Homo sapiens: one gene and its partners. The protein of the gene in region 1 interacts with the protein of each later gene in a pairwise test. Each region holds a gene or a part of one and is shown in the gene's direction. Other genes may lie near its edges. The genes, in order: TF, AQP9 and SYT2.

Region 1 (5,872 bases):
ATATTCTTAATTCATGGCAATGTGTTTGTTTGCATATAGTCAAGCAGGGTTCCTAGGGCTGCTTTGGGAGACAGAACCCAGAAACCTGGCATACTGGCAAAAGGGTAAGAATTTCTTACCAGCCAGACTCTGGTCTCTGTCTCTCTGTGCAAACTGCATAAATGAATAGTAAAAGTCACTGTTTATCTCCTCTGTAAAGTTTTGATTAATATAAAAAAAGAATTCTGAGGCCGATCTTAAGCTGTAGTGAATCTGGTGTGCTTTGTGTCTTTCTGTATTGTTTTGTCATAAAGAGGGGTACCTTAGAATAAAATGTGTGCTTAGGACCCCATAGACCTGCTGTTCAAGACACACCAGCAGACTGGTCAGTCATGTCTTTGGGAGCTTGACCTTGTAACCATGTGGCCATGCTTTCTCTTTTCACAGTGGCAGCCTGGGTTTAGGGTTCAATTCCTGGCTTAGGGAATGAGTCCTTTATCTTCTGTCTGTGTATTTATATGTGTTGTGTGTGTACTATAAAAGAGCATTAATTAATTAGCTTAATAATAATAAGAGCTTAAATCAAATATTTTATCAGAAAAGTAAAAAATGTAATGCCTTCTATTTACTTCATGTAACTTAAGTAATCTTTGGGAAATAAAGACAGTTTTAAAGATTATTGGTAAAATAAAAATATCTTCAAAATGTAAATATTTAGTCTAAATTATGCAGGTCAGATATTAGATTTGCAAAATGCTTTAAGGTCATAAACCGCTTCTTTGACTTTTAAAAATTGCTCAATTTATTTTGGAGCATTAGATTCTAGATAAGGCCTGGGGACAAATAGAATTAGCCATGTCCCCTAGCTATGCAAAGAAGGTTATAAAGAAAGGAGATTTTATATAAGAAAGGATCTTATATCGTAAATTCGTGTCCTAAAGTAAAATAAGCGGTTGTTAAAAAAGAGGGATGTTTAGGACAAGTTAGAAAGTCAAAGCATGTCGTAGATGGTCTGTGTAAGTCATGAAATAATTTACAAAAGAGAATTTATGCAAGAAATATACAATTTAACGGTGATTAGACCTCCTAAATGCTTCATAAAATGCCACTATGACTCTTAACTCTACAACTTGCCTGCTTTACAGCTCGGTAAGGCCTGAGACACGTGGAGTCAGATGCTGGAGTCAGACCTTAAGTGTACTTCTCTCTGGGTCCTAGACTCCACAACTAATATATAATTAAAATCCTTAACTTACCAAAGTTTTCACCAAAAGTAAAACTCGCTAAGAGTTAACATTGTAACATGTAAGTGAGACTACTGAAGCAACAGTTTTACATGCAAGTTACGTAAGAAAAGTGAATGCATTTTCAGTGAAAGATTATAACAAGGCATGGGAATGTAGATTTTTTTTTCTGTCTAAAGGGTTAAAGGATTGTTTTAAGTTAGGATAAAGCTAAAAGTTTGAATGAGTTGTGGAAGATTTATAAAAATTAATATTGTAAAAAATTATGTGTGTGAACATATTGACTAAATTTAAAGGGGTATTTTCTGGTTTTTCCATAAATTGAACATCAAAATAAAAGCACAAACAGGGTTTTCTTAAAGCACCGATCTGCTCTTTAACAAACATTTGTAAAGGATTATAAAAGGTTTATGAGAATCTCACCTTATGGTCAAACGGATTAAGATTGGAAAGATATGTCTACAAGGTTTTCTTAAAAATTGGGGTTGACATTAATAGCACACTAATGCAAGGGTGAAATTTGGCTTTCTCTCTTGAACAAGATTTTCATGCAGTATTAAAAGATAATGAAAGATCTTTGTTTGCCTTTTGAATAAACTACCCCCCCACCAAAAAAAAGGAAGGGAAAGACAAGAGACAGATTGTTTGTAAAGTAAGTCTTCCATCTATCAACATGGAAAGGTTTTTGCCTTTTAAAACATTTTTGAGTCATCATTTTGCTAAATGAATGACTATGGTAACCTGGAATTCCATTTCATAATGTCAAGTGTTTTAAATCTTTAACATATTTAATAGGCTTCCCAAAATCAAATTTCAGCTTCAAAATTGTCTTTTCTAACCTCTAACTTTGAGATGCTGCAGAGGGCCCCTGAAGCATCCAAAAGAGAGGTAAACAGAATTATTTGACATGTTTAATTACATGGGAAGCATTGTCAAAAAGAAAAAAATTTAATCTTCTTCAGGTTATATTTTAGTGAATAATATTAATATATGTTCCAAAATTGTATGAGATTTCTAAAATTCCAATATGTCTGAGTATATGCTATCAATCATAATTATGATTATTATGTTATTGTAGACCACAGAAATAACCAAATTTCCTTGTCAATTGTGTTTTTAACTATAACTATTTAAAGTCATTTCCACAGTTAATTGCTTAATGCTGATGCAGTTTCTGAAAACTTCACAAGCATGCAAAGTCCTAGAATATGGTGTCTTTTAGGAGATTCATGAAAGATTGGAAAGGACCCTAAAAAGCACTCTTGAATACAGGTTTCTAATAAGTTTAGAATTATATCATTTGAACTGGGTAAGAATTCCTGGAACTTTAATGAAAAGACTGACTGAGTTCTAAAACTGCTAACCCAAGTAGAACAAAAATTAATTAAATACCAAGAAAATACTTTGCCAGATTTTCATGCTAAATCAGCTGATACTGAAACTGTTTAGATATAAAATTTGAATAAACTCCATCATTTAAATCAAATTACCTATGATAACCCATCAGTTATCAGTGTTATGCACCTAATTTGGGGAAACAACTGGTATTCAAGAGGATATGAGTCTAATGTTAATTAAGCATGAACTCATGGAGAACCAGGATGGCCACCTTGTCCTTCCTAAGTCGTTAAAGCTTTTGTTAGTAAAATTTCTGCATTACATGACTCGTCACGGAAAAGATAAAATGATCCAAATTGAATATATTGATGTGGTGACTTATAAATTGCTAAAATAGTTTATAACCAATGTTTGGTCCCATATTCCTGGGAAAACAATCAAAGCTTCAGGTACATCCAGTCACCTGATAGGCCATTTAAACATTTTATAGAGGGATTTTATTCAATTGTTATTTTCAGTGCATGTTTTCTGGTTGTATAAAAGCTTTCCCATGCAAGAGGGCTGATGTTATAACACTAAGTTATTATGCCACCAAGTATTTTCACAAGGTAAAGAAAGCTTTTTATGGTTCACTGAGGACAATCAACTCCTTCACAACCTAGAAACTGAAGATTGTATCTTCTGAAAACATTGGATAAAGACTGTCCTTGCCATCCACACTACAGCAAAACTTCTGGACTTTGAACTTTGGGTTCATGATCTCACAACTGAGAAGAGTCCCTCCACACTCTTGGAACTGTACACCCATTGGAACCCTTAAGGTAAAGCTAACCAGGGAAGTTTCTCTCCCGAAGAAGATGGCATCCTTGATGTGAACAGCTTTTCCCAAGATCATGAATCAAGACTTCTCTATTATCATGAGACTCTTATCTTTGAATATTTTTTCCTTGCTTTTGCCTCTATGAAGAATAGAAGTGGAAAAAGGATCTGTTGTGTACAATTATGGGTTATACTTTTATTTGTGAAGAATTTTGCAGCCAGCTTTAGGTCCTTTTTCCATGATTTGGAATAAAAGAGGCAAATGTATCCCTCATAATAGGCTCCATAGCAGTTTACTGTAAAGGCTATGGTTACATAATAGACTAAATTATCTTAAGAAAGTTATGCTAAATAATAGAGTTGGCTAAACAGAAGAGTATCTGTGCAGCTGCTGGCACTCATGGCCTATGGAGAAAACATCAGGTATTATAGAGATTCAGTTGTAGCAAATTAATGAAGAGACTGCTTAGTTAAGTGAGTAGACTCTTTAGCTCATTGTTTAATCTATTTGAGTTTAGGAGGTTTGGTTTATGGTGACCCTGGATAAGGAGCATACTTACTCTCAACTCTTGGTATTATCCTCCTGATAGTCATAATAATAGTCTCCCTGGTGTGCTGTATTCTCTCAACGGTTTTAAATGTTTGCATGCTGCCACCTCTAGAATGTCAAATGGCCTCTCTTCAACTGGAATGACAAGAGCTGAAAGAAATTGCAGCCATGAGGACACTGTAACCTACGAATGATGTGCTGAGTCCAAAAGCCCAAAGTGTTGGTAACTGAGAGTGGTGCTAAGTAAGGCCCTAAGTTTTGGTCACACTCTCACTTAAGTGAGAACCTGACCAAAAAAGTGGAATTTTTTTTTTTTTTTTTTTTTTTGAGATGGAGTCTCACTCTGTCACCCGGGCTGGAGTGCAGTGGCACGATCTCGGCTCACTGCAAGCTCCACTTCCCGGGTTCACGCCATTTTTCTGTCTCAGCCTCCCGAGTAGCTGGGACTACAGGCACCTGCCACCACGCCCGGCTAATTTTTTTGTATTTTTAGTGGAGACGGGGTTTCACCATGTTAGCCAGGATGGTCTCGATCTCCTAACCTCATGATCTGCCCACCTCGGCCTCCCAAAGTGCTGGGATAACAGGCGTGAGCCACTGCACCTGGCCAAAAAGGGGAATTTTTTTTAAACAAAATTATGGGAGGTCATTTTTTTGTACTGAGCCCATGCGCCAGGCCCCAACAGACCAAACTAAACCAAAACGGAGTCACGTATGCCAAGACCTTAAGGAAACACATAGATCCTAGAACAGACCACAGGCCAGGTTTTGTTTTTCTCCTACAAATCTCTATAACAAACATTCCTGACAGCATAGATATCCACCCCCTGAGTTCCCATTAAATCTTTTAACCAAATTAATTTCCTCTCGCCAAAAGACCATCAAGCTTCAGATGATCATGCAACAAAAGTTTCATCCAGTTCCACCACCCCTGGCCATCAAGGAGCTACCCTGCCTTCACTAGAAAGAGCAGAGCAGGACTTCTGTGATCCTCAATAGGTAGGGACTAGGCCTCAAGCCAACATGAAGCAGTTACAAAAGAAAGACCATCGGCCCCTCCACCTCCCATAAAGATTTATGGGGATCCCATCTCTGGAGGGAAATGAGGCAGAAGAATAGGGTCTGTAGGCAAGGAATATAAGGCAGATGCATGCTCACTTCCTAGAACTAAATCAAATGGAAACACTTCAGCTATGATGGGAAATGTCTTCTGTATTTACATAGGGCATACACTGAGTAACCAATGGAAACCTCTAGAGGGTATTTAAACCCCAGAAAATTCTGTAACCGGGCTATTGAGCCCCTATGCTCAAGCCCTCTGCCACCCTGTGGAGTGTACTTTTGTTTTCAATAAACCTCTGCTTTTGTTGCTTCATTCTTTCCTTGCTTTGTTTGTGCATTTTGTCCAATTATTTGTTCAAGAAGCCAAGAACCTGGACACCCTCCAGTAGTAACACTACTGGACATATAGTGGACAAAATTAAGTCCTTATTTGAAACATCTAGTCTTCTAGATGTTTAGAAGTGCACACAGTATGTTAAAAGTAGAGGTAGTAAATAACACATTTTGTAGATATCCTTTTGATTCATATGAAACATTGTCTTTTGGAAATTGATCAAACCACTTCACATTATATTTATGCTGATTCAGGGAGGAAGGAGCAGAAGAAAGTGCAAAGGGCTTTATATCAGTGTGTTTACAGTATGACACAATTGACTGTTGTCCCTTATATCTGCATTTCCTTTTACTTTGCTGTGTATACAAACAAACATTTACATAGCTTTGGAATTTTGAATTGGTAAATATTCATGATGTGTGAAAAAGCATGATACATACTGTATGATCCCAATTGCATAACATTGGATGGTGTCCTAATTTATAACATCTAGTCTTTCTAGATGTTAAAGAGATTGCCAGCATATAACAAAACTAGAGTTAGTAA
Region 2 (7,123 bases), on another chromosome or scaffold:
AACATACTGTGTAGTCGGACAGATGCTGAATTCTTTTCTCACCCTGTCAAGCTTCCGCATTAGAGGTCTAACTTTTGGCATCTCTTAGAATGGAAAAAAATGCAAGTACTTCTGCTAAAAGTAGTACCCTTGATCTTTACCTTCAGTGCCCTGAAGGAAATAGAAAGAAACTATCCTGGAACACAGACTATGGAGGAAATAGGGGAGTGGGCAGTACAGGAAGGAGGAAGGAAGGACAGGGATGGTTGATTGTATGTGAGAAATTTCAGACACTGCAGTGTTCCCTTCTTCCTGCTCCTACCTTCCACCAGGACTGGGTGAGAAATCATCCCTCCTTGCTGGGGTCACAGAGTTTGTCTCTCCATTTTGAGAGGATTCTCAATCAGACATGCTGGTTATAGACACTCTAGGGCTTTAAAATTATTATTACAAAGTTTGTTCAGATCTTGAAGTAGGTCTATTCTATCTTAGGGAGCTTTTGAGACAAAAGAATCTATGGTCAGGATTTAGAGTGAAATCAGAAAGTTTATAAGCCAAATTAAAGGAAACGTCCACTTTGCAGGGCAGAATCCAGGACAATTTTGGTCTAGTACATTATTTGGAATGCCCAGGTACTGGCAGGAGAGCTCTGAGATAAGGGTGGGCAGATATCACTGGCCCTTTTTATTGGTGGAGAAGCTGAGCTCAGGCTGATGTAATCATGCATCCCGGGAATCAGCCCAGAGCCCAGTTGCCCTGCCCTGGGCACACACTCGCCCTTGGACTTCCACTGTGCTCTTCCCTTGAGCAGCACAGAGTGTTCGCTTGTCCAAATTCTCGTTCCTGTTTGAATGTTTCCTGAAGAGAGAGAAAGGAGAGCGATCAACTGCATTTTGCCAGATGGAGAGACAAGTGTAACACAATTAAGAGACTTATCAGCCCTTGAATGAAAGAGCTGGGCTTGGTATCTTGACTCCAGTCATTCCCTAATACCATCATTTGATGAGAATTAACTCCTTTCATGTGAAAGCCCAAGCGAACTTGACAAAGTTTACAGTTTAAAATACATTAGCAGTGTCAAAAGATGATTTTACAGAACAGACGTGATCGTGGTGGGGATATTTTACAGGAGATCTGCTAGCAGAGTCTTGGGATCTCTTCACCACCTACAAACACATTCAAACCTCAGGTAACACCAGGGTTCTGAGGTGGCTCAGTGATGTCTTCAGCTCTGATAAACACATTGACCAAGCATTGCACTGTGTTTTTCCTCTAGTATTTCTGTTTTCTAGCTTTTCCTCAAGACCACTCTTTTGGTTCAGAGCAAAGGACCTATAGGAAAGTGGGCCTCAAGAGACCCCATAACTTCTCTGTCTTGCTTTCTGGCTCAACAGCCACCTATTCTTTCTCTGTTTCCTCCATGCTTGGTTCTTCTAGCTTGCTATTTTACAAAACCATCCATCTCTCCAAGTCTAGGGTGCCCAGGACTGAGGGTCACATGGAGCTAGAGCTGTCAGTTGGCCAACAGATGCTAGATCAGAAGCCCCTACTGTCAGCAGTGCCCTGGATTCTGCCTGTGGGTGGTTTGTCTGTCCAAGTCGTGCACCATCCTCAGGCCCTCGCTCAGAAACTTTGGAATAAGATGGTCTCTGTTGCCTGACTCTTGCATCATTCAATTGAGAGAACAGACACCCACAGTCTTGCAGCATTTTATCAAAAGCTCTTTCCACCACAGCAGAACATCAGAGGATGTCTACCGTCAGTTTTACCTGCCTCTTGTTATTATGATTTATGTTCAATGCTCAGTCCTTCAAGGATTGGTACTTCTGTACTTGGGAGTTCTGTCCCTTTAAGAACGTCTGAGGTTCTAAATCTGAACATGCAGAAGTGCTAAACACTGGGGATTCTCCTTAGATCCTTGCCTTGAAGCAAGAGTTTAAAGACTCGAGGCTGTCTTCTGTCAAATATGATGACGAGGACAAGAGAGGGCAAAGGAGGTTAACACTAAGCATACTCTATACCCCAGACACTTTGATCCTTAAACTAAATCTAAACTAAATCTAATGAGGTAAAGATACTGCTCTCATTTTATAGATGAGGAAATTAGGACTTAGTATGTTTAAGTCACTTGACCACAAGCAAGTGTGTGGTGGAGCTGAGATTAGAATCAAATCTCTCCAGTTTCTCTTAACCACGCTACAGTTAACATTCTAATATATGCTTTTGAAGTTTTACTACAGTTGCCTATAAGAATATATATTATAGTTTTATATGTTTAAAAATTTACATATATAGCTTCATAGCTTATACATCTTCTCCAATTTGAGACTTTTTCCCAGAGACACTTTCTGAAATTTATTAATTTGGGAACATGTATGACTGGTTTATGTACCCATCGCCCTCTCACTATTGATTACAATCACCAAGACTGCTACATTGAACATCTTGGTACATGTCTCCTTGTACACATGTTCACGAGTTTCTCTGGAGTATATACCTAGAAGAGGACCTGGTGGTCCTAGGGTATGTGCATCCTCAACTTTATGTGTATTATAAAATTGCTCTCCAAAGTGATTTCAAAGTTGTACTTCCAGTAGCGACATGAGTTCCCATTTATCACATACTCAACCATCCTTGATATCATCCAACTTTTATATTTTGCTAATTTGAGAGAGAGAAAAATGGAATTTCACTAGTAATTGTACTCAATTCCAGTGCAGTGATTATCTTTTCATGTATTTACTAAACGTTTAGGTGCCTCTTTTGTAAATTGCCTGATTACAGCCTCTGCACCTTTCTCTTTGGGATACTTTACTTTTTCTTAATTGTTATAGGATATTTATATTTATTTTAAATCCATACATTAAGGTATTTTGTGTTTTCTTATTGAGGTTTAATATTTTGCTTTTCATATTTGTGTCTTTAAATAATTAGAATTTATTTGGTGTATGATGTGGGATTGGGGTCTATTATCTATGTCTGCAAGGATAGACAATTGTCCCAAGGCCAGTTTTGACTGTCTATCTTTTCTCCACTGATTGTGATGACATTCCTATCATACACCTGTTCACACGCATATGTGGTTCTATGCCTAGACTATTCAGTGCCATTGATCTGTTTGTCCAAACTTGCACTACCTCATATACCATTTTTTTTGTTGTTGAGAACATTGTTTGTTGTTGTTGTTGTCTTTCTACTTTTATTACCAAGGTTATATTAGACTCATGAAATGAATCAAAATTTTCCCTTTTTTTCTATTTTCTGGAGCACTTTGTAAAATGGGAGTTATGTATTTCTTGAAGATTACTCAGCATGTGCACGAAAAAAGAGAGGGATGGACAGATGACAAGAAAAATTTCTTTAAAAGTTACAGGTCTGGCCAGGCGCGGTGGCTCATGCCTGTAATCCCAGCACTTTGGGAGGCCGAGGTGGGCGGATCAAGAGGTCAGGAGTTCCAGACCAGCCTGGTCAATATGGTGAAACCCCATCTTTACTAAAAATACAAAAATTAGCTGGGCATGATGGCATGCACCTGTAGTCCCAGCTACTCAGGAGGCTGAGGCAGGAGAATCGCTTCAACCCGGAAGGTGGAGGTTGCAGTGAGCTGAGATTGCGCCACTGCACTCTGGCCTGGGCGATGAAGTGAGACTCCATCTCAAAAAAAAAAAAAAAAAAAAGATAAAAGAAAAAAACTCTACTATACCTGAGGTGACATCCTCTTTTCAATTTTTAAAAAGAAGTTTGTTTTCCATTTCAGTAATTTCTGCTTTGATCTTCCTTATGTCCTCCTATTGAGTTGATCAGCTTTCTTTATTCTTGCCTTTTCTCCTCTGTGTGCCCTTTCTATTAACGTATTTACCCTTAGGCTGGGCACAATGGCTGATGCCTGTAATCCCTGCACTTTGGGAGGCCGAGGCAGGTGGATCACCTAAGGTCAGGAGTTCAAGACCAGCCTGGCCAACATGGTGAAACCTGGTCTCTACTAAAAACACAAAAATTAGCCAGGCATGGTGGTGTGCACCTGTAATCCCAGCTACTCAGGAGGCTGAGGCAGGAGAATTGCTTGAACCTGGGAGGCGGAGATTGTGCCAAAGCACTCCAGCCTGGGCAACAAAATGAGACTTTGTGTCCAAAAAAAAAAAAAAATTACCCATATATATATATATTTTTTAACTTAAAGTAAATCAATTTTTCTTCTGAACAACACAAAAACTTTAAAAAATTCTAACTCCAATCAACCACTCTATCTTACATGTCATTGTTGTCTAATATTTAAATTTTTCCCTCATTATTATTGTTGTTACTGGTGTTTTAAAATAAATATTTTTGTTTGCTTATTTAAAAATGCATTCCTATCATTTACTGGTTTATTTGCTAATCATTACTGCATACACCCACTACTTTCTCTTGGGTTCTGTCTCCTTATTCTTGCAGTTCTTCCTTTAGAAAATTTTTCAGGAAGGGTGTGTGACAGATGAACTTTCTCAGTCTTTGTCTGAATGTGTCTATTTCATGCTCAAGGTTGAATGATAAATTAGCTGATACATTTTAGGTTGATAATTATTTTTGCTTGGCATTTTTCAGGTGTCTCTGTCATTTTTCCAATGCCTCTGTTATTGCTGTTCACAAGTCTCTGGGTCTCATTTTTGTCCTTAATAATCTGAATTTATCTGGTAACTAATAAGAGTTTCACTTTGTTTTTTTATTTTGAAATTTCACTATTATGTGCCTAGAGGTGAATTTATTTCTAGTTCTTAACTCATTTTTCATCTTCAATTTAAAGGGTTATAATATTTACCAATTCTGGAAAATTTTCCTCTTTATTACCTTGCCTTTCCCCCAGTCTGTTTTCTCCTTTTAGAACTCCTACTATATTGGTATGCATGTTGACTCTGTCATTTTTTTATGCCTCAACCATTTTTTTCATATTTCTTCTCTTATTCTCTTAATCCATGCTGAATTTTGTATAGTTGCTGTTTCAAATCTATCTTTCAGTTCACCAATTCCCTATTTGGTTCTATCTAATCTTCTGTTTAACACGTTCATTGAGTCTTTAGTTTCACTATCTTTTCATTTCTATATGTTTTATTTGGTTCTTTTTTTCTTTTAGTTTCTTTTCTTGTGTGCTTATTTCTTTCATTTCCTTAACTCACCAAAGCCTAATATATTTATAATATTTTAAACCTGTTCTGTCGTCTCGAGTTGCGGGGGAGTGAATCATTCTGCCTATTTTATCTACTGACTCTTATTCATAAAGGATCTTTTCCTTTAGTGTTTTATACATCTGTATTATAAATTCTTCAGGGAGATTTATTTTTCCCTGTGGGAATTCCACGTGGCCTAAGGTGTGGATTTGTTCTTCCAGAGCAGGTTTGCATTTGCTTCTGCTGGGTTCCCCAGGTATACCGCCAGCCAGAAATGATTGCTGTGGAGTGGCAAACTGAAAAGAGAAGCCTGGGGGATGCAGGTGCCTGTTGAAGAGCACTCTCCCAAAAGAACGGCACTCTGTGACCTTTCTCCCAACTGTGACCGTAAATGACTAAGAGACCTCGTGCTTCCTACAAATGAGGCCAGCTCTTTTGACATCCTTAGACTTTGAGTCACTAGCAGCTGAGGGAGAATTTTCCTACAGACTTCCCCCTATCAGCAATGAACGTGGAGGACCAGGCTCACCTGGGAAATCTTACAGTTTCAAGGCGCTTGGGAGAAAAGTCCGTTCTGGATCACTGATCTAAGGGCTGCAGACTCCTGGAGCCAAACTTGATTCTGCCAAACAGGATTCTGCTTCTGATTGTGAATTTTAATTTTACCCAGAAAACTCACTGTTTTCATTGACTTTCAAAGGGGAAGTATTTTTTTTTTCTACTTTCCAGAAGTGGGTTTCGTCAGTTTTTCTTTAGTGACGAATCCCATTGCAACATGTTCTCATTACTTGACGAGAAAGGAAAACATACTAATGAGAGCAGAAGTTGGCCCTTATTTACTCATCAGCCCTGTGAAAGTGACCTAACAACCCACAGATGGTTCAAATGGCTGAAGCAGTTCAACCGTGAAGAAATTAGGTGCCCATTATACCTCCAGCAGGCATCTAATTTCATGTCTGGGGCAGGATTGCTGAGTTCACTGAAACTTCTAAGCAAAGCAAGTGATTTAAGAGAAACTATGCCAGCAAAGTGTGCCGGCCCTGCCCCTTGCCCTTTTCTCCATCTCAGTAGCTTGGCTGGTCATGCTAAGATGTGAGCCTAGAACAGTCAGTCAAGACCATAAACGACTTGAAGGCTTAGTCCCTCTCAGCGCACATGCCTTAGAGTCTTTCTGGAAATTCAAGCTTTCTTATGAGAGTACCTCCCGAAAACCCTATGCTTCTATCAACAGGTGATTGGTTAAAAAAATGGGGGTGCATCTATGCAAGACTCCTATTTACCCATTAAATAGAAGGTTTACATGCTAATACAAAAATACTCTAAGCTATTCAAGTAGAAAAAGCAGGCAGAAATGGTATGTGTTAAATACCCTCACCTGTATAAACACATGCACACACACACACACACATATACATGCACACACACAGAGGCACATGCACACTTTTTGACAACATACCAGGAAGTATTGATATTAGTTACCTGTGGAGAATAATATTTAAAATCTGGGGTTGGAAGGAAACACATTTCTTATATTTTATAGTATACCCTTTTGAAATTTAAAAACTTGTACATATTCATATGTATTTTCTTCACCCCCTTCCTCCCCATGAGAGAGCTCACCCAGTAGAGTATGTCTTTTCAAAGCATTTTTGTAGGGAGTTGCTCAAAATCTGTTCTGAAAAACACTAGTTCCAAAAGATGCAAACAAGAATTAAGTGAAAAAAATACATGTGGTCCTTCCCAAATATGTTTGGGAAACACTGGGTTAAACCAAAATAAGCAGTTTTCTCAACTGCAGGAATTATCAGAGCCTTTAATGTTCTCTGTAAATCTCTAAGAGGGGAACAGAATGTAAAGCTGTCTTCAGCTCTACTTAACCACAAACCCCTTTTTTGAGGAGCATCTAATGGAACTAATGATCTGTGAAACATACTTTGAGATTTGCAGACCCTGGAAACACATCAGTCCTCAGAACTCCTCCATATGCAGAGATCTCCCAG
Region 3 (5,482 bases), on another chromosome or scaffold:
ATGCTGGAGAGCTGATAGGTAGCTGGAGTGGCCCAGGGAGACCTATGGGAAGGACCCGTCCTACCATTAGGGGGCTTCTCTCTATGAATGCTAAGAAACAAAGGGCATCCATTCCAAATGAGTAGCAGAGGTGACCTTCTAGGGTTTCTACCCATGCTCAGTTGTATCCCATTCCCTGTTCACCTTTTGTCCCCAGCACTGATATAAAAGCCATATATATGTTAGTCAGGTTTGCACTGAGTCTTCTTCCAATCCTTCAGCCTGGACAACAGAGTGAGGTCCCCTTGTGGCCAGAGGCCAGCCCTCCTTGCCTGCCTTCCTTTGACCTCTCTTTTCCATCCATGAAGCCCTCAGGCCCTTGCCATTTTTTCACCACAGAAAACTCATGGCTTCTCCAGAAGCCTGAGTATCTCTCTTTCCCAGCACAAATGGCAGCATCTCTATCCTGCCCCATCTGGGCCACTTCAGCTTCCTGTAGACACCCAAGACAGATGGACAGTGTTGGAGGGAATCAGGCTTTGAGGATCCAGTGTGAAGAAGTTGCAGAGTGTCTTTTTATTTTATTTTAAAAAGGGGGAAGGGGCTTTTGGTTTTGCTTTGTTTTTTGGATGAAGGAGTGAGGGAAATGAGGGAATACCCCCACCAGAAACAGACTGGAAAGCCTGCCTGTCTCTTGGAGATCCTTCTTTGTCTTGTTAGTGGTACATGGGAAGTTATGTTTTTACTGGTGTGTGTGTGTGTGTGTGTGTGTGTACTTAATGATGGGAAGGTAAGACTCTGATCAGGATTATGAACTGCGGTCCTTGGGACCAAAGGTGTGGTCATGGTAGAGAGTTGTAGGACAATAGGGTGTTTTCAGAATCTGGGTGGCCACAGAGTGGGATTTCCTGGTATGGACATCAGAAGTCACTGGACTCTTCTCCCAACCCCAGAGTTATGGGATTTTGGTGCTTTCTCAGGGTCTCTCCCCAGACTCACTCTTCTCACCCATATCCCACAGACTCACTCATGGAGACCCCCTTGTCAATATCCCCTCTACCTTTACTCCTTTGCCCTTTCCCAATTCATCTTCTACCACCTGGATTCTTTTCCATTCATGAACTTCATTCAGCCCTTCCAAAGCCCAAGATTTGCATTCCCTTGACAGGGAGGAAAGGCAATGGTAGGAACCTCTGGTGGTCTGGGTGTCTATGTGCCTGGTGACCAGGGCTGGATTTTTATTACTCTGAGCCCACTGCTAGTGAGGAGCCTTGAGGGGTGGGGACAGGTTGCTGAGTGATTTTGAACGTTGACACCAGTGTGGAGCCAGTGTGGGTGTGGGGAGCAGTGCCTTCCTCAGGTCCCAGCTGGTCCTGATATGCCACGTAGTGGATGGCATCTGTCTTGGTCCATGGGCTTGGTGGGAACATGCTTCTGCTTGTGTGTTTTCCATACCTGAGGGCTGACGTAGCTTAAACCACAGGGCATCATGCCAAACACTCACTGCTGGGCAGGTTTATTTCTGGGGATGTCAGGGTACTGGGGTGTAGGCACTAAGCAGGATAGAGTTAGGGTGTCTGGCTAGTAAGGGGTTCTGGACGCCTCTGGGGCTGTGAGTTTTCATCTCAAAGTCTGTTCCAGAGAAAGGAAAGTAGTATAGAGGTGATTTTTAGAGAAGCTGAGACCATGAAAACAAGCCTAATCCCATCCAGAAACTGGGGTAAAGTCTGAAAGTTCGTTTTCTTCTTCCTCCCTGAATAATTGTTCCAGAAGGGATGCTAACTCTGCCAGAGCTACAGGCAGATTTTTGGGCTTTGGAAGTGGAAGCTGAGGCCTGGGGAAGGCTGGGTAAGGAATGCTGGGGCAATCTCAGACAGTAGGCAGGTGCTTGGCATGAATGAGAAGTGACTTTCCTGGAGTCCCTCAGTAGAGGATGAGATAGCAGGGATTAGGCCACAGTCTCAGATCCTGATCTTTTTTCTTCCTAGGAAAGCATACATAACTTGTGTCTGCAGAATCAGTGTGGGATGATTTTGCTGGCCCAAGGCTTCAGCGAGAGGGAGAAGAGAGGTCACTACAGCCCTCCTGTGGGTAAAAGCAGCTCTCTTATAAACCTGCCTCCATGCAGTGGGGTGGGGGTAAGGGTGGGTGACAGCAAAGAGGTTGAGGAACCTCCCTGGGTTTGGGGAGTGAGAGCTTCCATGTTCCCTTAATGTCCTAGGTTAATTCATAAGGCATCTGAGTCCTGGGTCTCACCCAGCCTCACAGAGAGAAAAACTGTCCCTGAGGGTGTCCCCTCCCACTCAAAGGTAGAAAGAGATTGAGCCAGGAACTGCCCTCATATCCTCTGCTCTGCCCCTTCCCTTCCCTTTCCTCTGCCCCTCCCACCTAAAGCTGTTTGGGGCCCTTTCTCAGAGCCCTGGGTGGTGGCAGGCAGGGAGGAGTCCCAAGATCCTGGTGGCCCTGAGCCCCATGCTATGGTTGCCAGATTTGGCAAATAAAAATACAGGATGTCCAGTTACATTTGAATTTCAGTTCAACAACAAACAATTATTAAGTGTAAATATGTCCTAGGCAAATAGTTGGGACATATACTAAAAAATAATTTGTTGTTTATCTGAAATTCAAATGTAACTGGTCATCCTGCATTGTGTCTGGGAACCCTACCCTATGACTTTTCCCCCTCTCCCTTTGGTCCCAAGGGGCCAGGAACCCCAAGGATTTGACTTAACCAGTTTTTTGAACTGCAATATTGAGAAGGGGACACTGTGACTTGAAGACACATGAATTACTTTATTTTTTAAGCAACAACAAAATAAGAACCTTCTGAAGCCATTTGAGCCTCATCTGCCCCCATCCGTGTATATTTAATTATATATAAAAGAAGATAATTACCTAGAAACATATGAACAGAATCTTGTTTAATCAAGATGCATGTCTATAACTTTCTGTAAATAGCCGCATGGCAATGCTGAGAGTCCCCTTGATCCCCAACCTCAAACCCATTTTACAGAACTGGTTGAGGCTGCTCCTTTGATTTTATGTCGTGTAAAGTCTTTGTTCCCCAGCCCCACCCCTGCCTCCTCCCATCGGGAAACCCCCCATGGGAGTCATCAGTGGGCGGGAGTCGGTGCCTGCTCCAGTCCAGCCCTGCCTTGGGAGATGCTGGAGGACCCTGTCGCCCTGAAGGCCTGTTTGCTGCACATCTGCCTGCAGAGCCAAACCTCAGGGCCCGGTGCAGTGTCCAGCCTGGTATCTGGCATCCCAGTAGCTTCCATGTTCTGTGTATGTGTGTGGTGTGCCCCTTCCTCCCACTGTTTGAATTCACTGAAAAGCCATAAAGGGGGCCTCCTGCTGGAGATTTGGCCTCCCTTGGCTCCTCCCAGGAGCCCCCATGTCTCTCCAACTGGCTCCCCACAGACCACTTCTGAAGGGCTCACCTGTTGTCACTCCCTCCTGCTCCCTCAGTCCCGTGTCATGAGAATGGACGGTGTCCAGGGCTTCCGGTGGGGTCTCAGGAGATGCCCATGCTGGCCCTGCCCGAGCTGGCTTTCTCGGCCTGGGTTCACAGTTCAGCTCCATCTCTACGCTGGGCGAGGAGCAGACAGCAGTGGGACTCCATGGTTCTGGATACCTTTCCTGGGGTCCCTGTGGAGGCAACCAGGATTTTCAGGAGCAGCCAGTCAGCAGCTCAGCCAGGGATGACAGAACCATCCCTGCTTACTCACCTCTGTAGTGTGAGGGTCTGTGGGTGGTGATGGAGGAGGGACTCAGGGAGAGGCCGGTGAATACAGGGGCTGACGCTCTTCCCTCGTGCATCCTCCTGCAGTCTGACAGAAAGCAGCCCAATAGCGGGGCAACCTCAGGGCTACCAGCGATCCCCTGAGAGTGGGGTGGGCAGGTTCAGCTGTGAGAGAGGCTCAGGCAGAGCAGGTGTGGACTAAGTCCCCTGACCTTCACACCTGCTCCCCAGAGAAGCCCCAGCCAGTTGCACCAAGTAGCAGAGGTGAGTAGAGGGGCCTGGGGGCTTCCAAGGCCCCAGGTCATCCTGTTGAACTGAGAGGGACAGGTAGCCCCCCTGCCTGCGGCCCCTGGCCCCATGGGCACCTGAGGGCAGTACTGCATGGGAAGAGCCCAGGATGCCTCAGGCCTGGCAACTGTGACAAGTATGAGGAAGGAGAGAGAACGGGAAGGGAATCAGGCAGGGCGCATTCGAGGAGGCCAGAGGTGGCGAGGCAGGCTTGCCCTGCACAAACCACAACAGAAGTTGCACACAGAAGTCCCAGGGACCTTTGTGCTGGGAACTGAAAGAGTGGGGAAGGTGGAGGGGACCATTTCAGAGCAGGCTGGAATCAGGTGCTTGGACCAGTGAAGACATGTCTTGCTTCCTCCAGCTCTCTCTGGGGCCCTCCCACTCTCCACACCCACAGCAGAGACAAATTGAGGCAAGAGTTGAGAGAGCATCTGTCTGGTGAGGTGATGGGAGCAGTGTGCATGGGGCACCAGGAGTTCCTCCATCCCACCTGCCTTAGCGATCAGGACTTTAGGGGGGCCTCTTCAAAGATAGTGACCCTTCTGCCCTGACTCCTGCCCATCTAAGGACTTGATTTGCTGCTTTCTGAAAACCCTGGGGCTGAAAACTTCAAAATCAGGGCCTGGCAGAGCCTAGCTTCGCCAAGGTCAGCCCACCAGGAGCCCTGCCTTCGTCTCCATAGGAAGGACACATGTACAGCCCTTGCCCCCGGCCCTCTCATTCCCACTTCTGCTTGGCAATGCTCTCCATCTCCCTTATGTGGACTCTTGTTCTTGTCTGATCTCTTGTCAAATTGTTATTTTGTAATGAACTGCGTCTCCTTATTAAAGAAATGAGCTGAAAGAAACCTGGGGGTGGGGGGTGTCTCTGGTTGTTTTTGCTGCGCTGAGGTGGGGGTGAGGGAGTGGGAGCTGCCTGTGAGGGTCAGTATGGTGGGTGAGGGTGGTGAGATGGTCCTGAGGCTCTGGCTTCTAACCCAGAATCTCCCTTCAGGGAAGCACCAAAAGGGGCTGAGGTCCCCTCTCTCCTGGGGTTGGGGGAAGACCAGATTGGCACTCTGGTGGGTGCTGGGGCCCACACATCTCCTGAGAACACATGCCAGGCTGTGGAACTGTGGGGAGTGTGGTGGTGCCGGGGAACATTGTCTGGGAGGCTGGGCGGGGCGGGGTGGTGGTGGGGACTATATTCTTGAATTCCCTTCCAGTAGAGCTGGGCTTAGGGAACAGCCACAGTCTGAGCCCAATGACGAGAGGGAGGCTGGCCCTGGGAAGTGGGAATTTGAAAAGTAACAATTTCTACAAAGTCCTCAGTTGACTCTTTGCAAATAACTTGAAATGTCTTTAACTTCTGAAGCAAAGATGTTAGGGACCAGGGATAGGGCGTCAGAATTTTTAGGGAAAGGGAGAGTGGGACAGCATTGCCCCCAAAGACCAGGGAAGAGTAAAACTCCTTCTTCGGTTCCCACTTCCA

What was found.
Region 2: the proteins of TF (region 1) and AQP9 interact in binary tests that used the Homo sapiens proteins (3 or more experiments, as listed by UniProt).
Region 3: the proteins of TF (region 1) and SYT2 interact in binary tests that used the Homo sapiens proteins (3 or more experiments, as listed by UniProt).

What each region holds. Positions count from the first base shown.
Region 1 is NC_000003.12:133,791,337-133,797,208, forward strand, and holds the end of TF (serotransferrin isoform 1 precursor), read left to right. Parts: 3' UTR 1-5,305; downstream 5,306-5,872. UniProt on the Homo sapiens protein: Transferrins are iron binding transport proteins which can bind two Fe(3+) ions in association with the binding of an anion, usually bicarbonate.
Region 2 is NC_000015.10:58,141,378-58,148,500, forward strand, and holds part of AQP9 (aquaporin-9), read left to right. Parts: intron 1-7,123. UniProt on the Homo sapiens protein: Aquaglyceroporins form homotetrameric transmembrane channels, with each monomer independently mediating glycerol and water transport across the plasma membrane along their osmotic gradient.
Region 3 is NC_000001.11:202,589,973-202,595,454, reverse strand, and holds the end of SYT2 (synaptotagmin-2), read left to right. Parts: 3' UTR 1-4,859; downstream 4,860-5,482. UniProt on the Homo sapiens protein: Exhibits calcium-dependent phospholipid and inositol polyphosphate binding properties. May have a regulatory role in the membrane interactions during trafficking of synaptic vesicles at the active zone of the synapse.